2 separate regions of the Homo sapiens genome follow, and region 1 is linked to region 2. The links come from fine-mapping of genetic effects on gene expression. A gene starts in region 2. The other region holds a variant in brackets. All regions are shown on one strand. Distances are from middle to middle. Region 1 overlaps LZTR1 (leucine zipper like post translational regulator 1). Region 2 holds the start of P2RX6 (purinergic receptor P2X 6).

Region 1 (2,601 bases), 20 kb after region 2:
GCCCACCCTCCCCTCCTGTCCAGCCCCCACCCACCTGGAGCGGGCGGCCAGGATAGCCTTGTGGGCTGGCCGTGGGTGCCCGTCAAGCAACAGAGTGATGTCACAGAATTCCGCGCCCGCTCCCTCCAGGTATGCCTTCATGTCCTGGATCAGAGATGTGCCTGGGGGTAGGAGGGTCCCTGAGCAGGTACAGCCTGGGATTCTGGCCTTGGGGCCCCACGGCACTACCTTCCTGCATATCTGCCCATGTTGCTGCCCTGAACAAAACTTCACCCAGGCAGAAGGCCTCACTCGCCCTGAGGTACCATCAGCCACATTCTGTCCTCCCTCGGCGCCCTGGCCGACTCAAGCACTATGCCCCACGCACAGCCCACCACCCAGCGTCTCATCTTCCACCCAGCTTGCTGTACCCCCTCGCTGACCTCATGATCAAGCCCCCTCCAGGCCCACTGCATGGCCTCTGGTGCCTGCAGACATCACCAAGAGCCAGCAACCGGGGTCAGCACAAGCCCCAGGGAGAGCTGGGGGAATGAAGGGGCCTGTGACATTACAAGCAAAGAGAAGTCCAGAGACTGATCACCGTGACCCTGGGCCATCAGACCTGACATCCTAGCCCGAAAGAGGTGCCCCATGTCCACCCCCAGAAATTGGCTCAGGAAATCCCAGGTCACCAGGACACAGCCCACTGTGGCAAGCCCCATGGGTCGGGGGCTTCTGCCTTCATCTGTTTCCTCCCTGTACCCAGGAGAGCACTCTGGGGTCCCATGGCACCCACCCCCACCCCGAGGGCCTGGCAGGTGCTCTCCATGGCTCCCAATCTCCTACCGCAGATGAACACCATCCCTCCCAGCCCCCAGGGAAGGGGAACGGGGCTCCCTACCAATGTCCACTGGCTGGTCCAAGGGAGTGCGAGGGGGCGGCTGCTGCTTCCGCCGCACAATCTCCACTATCAGTGGAGAGGAGAGGCGCTCGAACTCCTTCATCATGATCACCTGGTTGAAGTGGGACTCCTTTACCACGAAGTTCAGGCAGTGCTCCTGGGGCAGACAGGCACAGGCAGGCAGGCAGAGTCAAGCCAGGGCCCCAGGCTGGGCGAGGGGCTCACAGTGGTGGGCAGGGAGGGGGCCTAAGCCTGAGCACACCCCACCCAACCCTGATTGCGCTGACCCCACCCCACACCTTGAGTTGGCTCAGCTGCAGCCGGGCGGCACTCTCGCACACAACCAGCACGTTCTGCAGGTCCACGGAGGCCTCGATGTACTGGCGGCACAGCTGCTCCAG[G/A]CGGCACAACTGGAAGCTCAGTGCCAGTTTGTACACATCCATGATGAGCAGCACATCCTCCACATGGCCTGCGCCCCAGAGCCCCCGAATCTCAGGGAGCCGGAGAGGGGAGGGCAGGGCACAGGGCGCAGGGCTCCCCCCATGGAAGAGTGTGGGCTGGGGCCACTAGGTAGGAACAAGGCCTCGGGGGACTCAGATGGCGTCCAGCTGCAGTGATCATGGGTAAGGAGGGTGACCTGCAGCCTCTGAGCCTCAGGGGGCCCATCAGTAAGGCAGGGCTGGCAGCACCCACCTTTTGGCTCTGCTGCCCGCACCCCAGCCCACACCAACCCTGCTCCACCCCCACCCAGGCGGACCTTTCCGTGGGTATTTGATCTTGTCGGTGTAGAGGAACTGCATGAGCACCTCGAAGGGCCGGGCCTCGGCCTCCCGGATGGCCACGTGCAGCAGGGGCGGCCGGGCCCCACCAGCAGCCACGCCGGGGGCCTCCCTGGGAACTGGGGCGGCCTCCTGCTCCAGCTTCTGTGGGGAGAAGGGAGCTCAAGGACACCCCAGTGGACACCAGGCATGGCTGCCAGGTCAGGGCAGGGCGGTTAGGCACCTCACCTGGGCCAGCCTCTCCCGCGCCTGCGTGATCTTCCTGCGAAGCCAGCGGCTCCGCGCTGTGACAATGGCTACGTGGCCCTGCACGCACTCCTCCTTCTGCACAAAGAATGATGCACTGGCAGAGGGCACAGGACCCTCGCCCCAGAGAACAGAGACCCAGCCAGCCAAGGTCAGCACCACCAGGCCAGCAGCTGTTTTTCTGAGGGGCGAAATTCCCACTGCCCAGGCACAGCAGGCAGAGCAGGGTGCGAGGACAGGCACCCACCTCACCCAGCACGAACTCCACGTCGCAGAACTGGCGGCTCTCCCACAGCCGCCCGTAGTCCTCGTGCAGCGTGCATTTAGGGTAACAGGAGAACTGCAAGAGGGGCCCAGTGAGACTAGATGTTGCAGACAGCAGGGTGGCCCCAGTGTGGCTGTGCAGGCCGACCCTGAGGTCCCCACCTGGCCCATGCTGACCCTCAGGGCCCAGGAGGCAGGTGGGCCTGGCTGAGGAGAGGAAGCAGCCGCTACCCCACCCTGAAAATACAGCCTGGCTCCAGCCTCAGCACCTGCAACTGTCCACGGCCGGCTCCACAGCAGGAAAGGGCTCCCCTGCCTCTCTTGCCTTCGGCTGGGCCCCAGGCCTCAGCAGAGCTCTGCCGTCTCCACTCTGCCTGGACCTGCGTCCTCACACTGGCCCCCACCAGCACATCCCAACCTCCTCCAGGAAGC
Region 2 (3,000 bases):
TCAATCTCGTGATCCACCTGCCTTGGCCTCCCAAAGTGCTGGGATTACAGGCGTGAGCCAGCACGTCCAACCCTGGCCTGGCTTCTTGAGTGGCCCCTTTTTCCACCCCAAAACCTCCTACACATCCCTGAAAGTCCTGTCCAGGTGCCACTCCTCTGTGAAGCCCTTCCTGAGAACCCGCAGCCGTCTCTGGCATCACATGCTTCTCTCTCGCACACACTGGCTGCATGGCGGGTGTTCAGGCTGTCAGTGGGGAAAGGACTTGCGCCCCCGTCAGCAACATCAGGGCCCCCACCTGAGGTGGCTTCACGAAGTCGGCCACATCCCACAGCCGGTTTCCAAGCTCCTTGATCTGAGTGACGGAAACCCCTTTGAGTTTGGTGATGATGGAAAACTGGGGTTCCAGGTCCCGCTCCTGGTAGCCTTTTTTGGCGAGGAGAGCCCACCTGGGGAGGAGAAGTCGGGCAGTGTGGTGTGTCCCCAGCGTGTAGTGACAGGGGCGGAGCTGAGCCCTACATGCTCAGTTCTCCCCCCACACCCTACAGGCTCCCGGCCCAACATCGAAGGCCCCACCTCCTCTCTGGCCCCACTTCCCACTCCAGACCCCCTGAATGAGACAGAAGCTCCAGCCATGCATCAGAGAGCCAATGCCCTCAGACAATCACCTTCACTAGCCAGCACCCACCCCCAGCCTGACTAGATCCAGCTTCCCCCTTACAGACTCTCCTGACCCGAGATACAGCTGGTGGTCTCTCTGGGGGCCTAGTGCTCCAGCTCTCACAGATGTTAAGGACTATGTCATGTGCCCCCTGGGTGGGGCCTGGGTGGGGGCCTGGGAAGGAGGCAAGTGGACACACAGGACAAACACACAGCTTGTTCTTGCTCTCCTGTCTTGTATCGCCTAGCTCTCCCCAACCCCGTCCCAATCTGCCCCCTTCCACTCCAGCCCCTAAACAGCCCAACCCTCAACTTCAACCCAGCAGGACCAAGCCCCACCCCCCACCTCTTCCCTTGCCCCTCCAGCCTGGCCAAAAGCTCTTCTCTCTTACCCTACCACATAGACCACGATCCCAAACTGCAGCAGCCTCTGCAGGGCGCCCACCCGCCAGTTCCTGGTCATCACATACTTCTCCGTCTTATAATCCAGAAGCCCCCAGCCTGTCGTAGCCCCTGGGGAGCCCATGCTGCCAGCTCCTGCTAGCTGCGGGCACATGAGTCAGCATGGCAGCTGCAGCCGCAGCTGAACAGGAGGCAAAGCAGGGCCCGAGCCAGGCCAGGCCAGTTGCTGTTAAAGGGACACTTCCACTAAAGCAGGATCCAGATCCAGCCTCCAACACCCAGCCCTCAACCCCTAATCCCAGCTGCCCTGCACCTCCCACCCTCCCTACATTCCCTTTGCTGGGCCCTGGCACACAGAGAACAGCAGCAGCTCTGTCCCTGCCCTCTGGCCTCACTTCCTGGGGTGGGAGTGGAGGTGGTGGGAGGGTGGAGACGGACAGCTGTTATCAGTGCTGTGAGAGGAGGGCCTGAGGGCAGCAGCAGCAGGGCGGGGAGGGTGTTGAGGAAAGCTTCCGGAAGAAGTGACCTCTAAGCTGACCCTTGCAGATTTCTGAAGTTCGACAAGCAGACAAAGATGGGGATGGAGGTTCCTGGTGCAGGGAGCAGCGTATGCAAAGACCAGAGCATGCAAGATAACTAAGAGGCACAGAGTGAGAGGGTGACCTGGCTCTGCGAAGTTCCCCAGGCCCTCCTGAAAAGCTGCCCCCGCCACCTTCCCCAGTGCAGTGAGGACAACACAAGTCCTGGAGTCAGGCGTGTTTCCCAGTCCACGAAAGGGGGGCGATGCTGGAACCCCCTAGGAAGGCAGGGAGGATGCCCACAAGGCGCCCAGCCCAGTGCATAGCCCGTGGCGCGTGCAGTTTATCCTCTCAGGCGAGGAGCCTCAGCGCAGGAGAGCCACGGTTTCTACGGCAACCTACAGCACTGGGTTGCCGGGGCGACCGCCGCGGGGGAGCGCGTCGCTAATTGCCGTGGCAGACGCCAGTCGATGGACGCCACACTCGATTGGTCAGCGCAGCCGCAGACTCCGCCCACATCCCCGGGTCGCGCTCTAAGTGAGGCGCCAAGCGGTCTCCGCCTCAGGGTCTGAGGCTGCGAAAGGGGCGTAACGATGAGCGGTTCCTGCCAGAGGTCTGGGGAGGATAAAAAGCAGGAGGAAGAGGCGACGGCGGCCTGTGGACGTCTTGCAGGGGTCCCCGAAGCCAAGCAGGGTCCCAAGGCCGATTCAGACTCCGACCTAGAGACGGAAGGTGCTCGGGGCAGGGGCCAGGCCCGTCTCCTCCCCTTGGGGGCTTCTCCCGCAGGGGTTGTGGGAGGTGGGCTGGCGCCGCCGAGGAGGCAGGAGACCTCTGTCCAGCAGGGCACGTAGCCCTCTGCGGGGCGTCTCCAGCCCCCTGCCCTCTCCTCGGCGCTCCTGGCGGCATCAGGAACTTTACCATGAGAAGGCGCTTCTAGAAGGAGGTTAAAATGGAAAATCCCGCCAGACAGTGCACCAAAGGCTGTCCCGCCCTGAAATGCAATCAGAGCTGGGTTTTCCCAATCCACAGGTAAAACTAATATAATGGATGTATAGAATTTAGAACTACTTCCGGTTTTTTCCCTGGGGAAAATATTCACAAAACATTTGTGGTCTGCAATCAGGTTAAAAGACATAGTGTGCCATTTGTCATCAGACAGGTAGAGGCCTGACTCTGGCAGGATTAGCTACCACTAGCTGTGAGACTTTATGTATTCATTTATTAGAGCCAGGGTCTTGCTCTGTCACCCAGCTTTCAGTGCAGTGGCAGGATCATAGCTCACTGCATCCTTGAACTCTGCACTCTGGTGAGCCTCCTGCCTCAGCCTCCTGAGTCGCTGAGACTACAGGGGGCTACCACATCTGGCTAATTTAAATAATTTTTTATCTCGCTATGTTGCCCAGGTTGTCCAGCTTTCTTTTGA

What was found. PIP is the estimated chance that this variant, and not a neighbour inherited with it, causes the effect.
Region 1: its variant is the best candidate, but not a certain one, in a credible set for the expression of P2RX6 in gastroesophageal junction (GTEx, PIP 0.81).

What each region holds. Positions count from the first base shown.
Region 1 is chr22:20,993,306-20,995,906 of GRCh38, reverse strand. LZTR1 (leucine zipper like post translational regulator 1) reads right to left here. Exons shown (of 21, transcript NM_006767.4): 12 at 2,153-2,245; 13 at 1,888-1,983; 14 at 1,638-1,803; 15 at 1,180-1,349; 16 at 881-1,037; 17 at 35-161. Among named protein-coding and RNA genes, the nearest start is that of THAP7-AS1, 7.3 kb to the left of the region's middle. The variant G/A (reference allele first, on the strand shown) is at 1,282.
Region 2 is chr22:21,013,388-21,016,387 of GRCh38, reverse strand. P2RX6 (purinergic receptor P2X 6) reads right to left here and starts at 1,223. Exons shown (of 12, transcript NM_005446.5): 1 at 1,050-1,223; 2 at 296-446. The coding sequence starts at 1,213. It also overlaps the pseudogene TUBA3FP. RefSeq lists an enhancer at 2,194-2,343.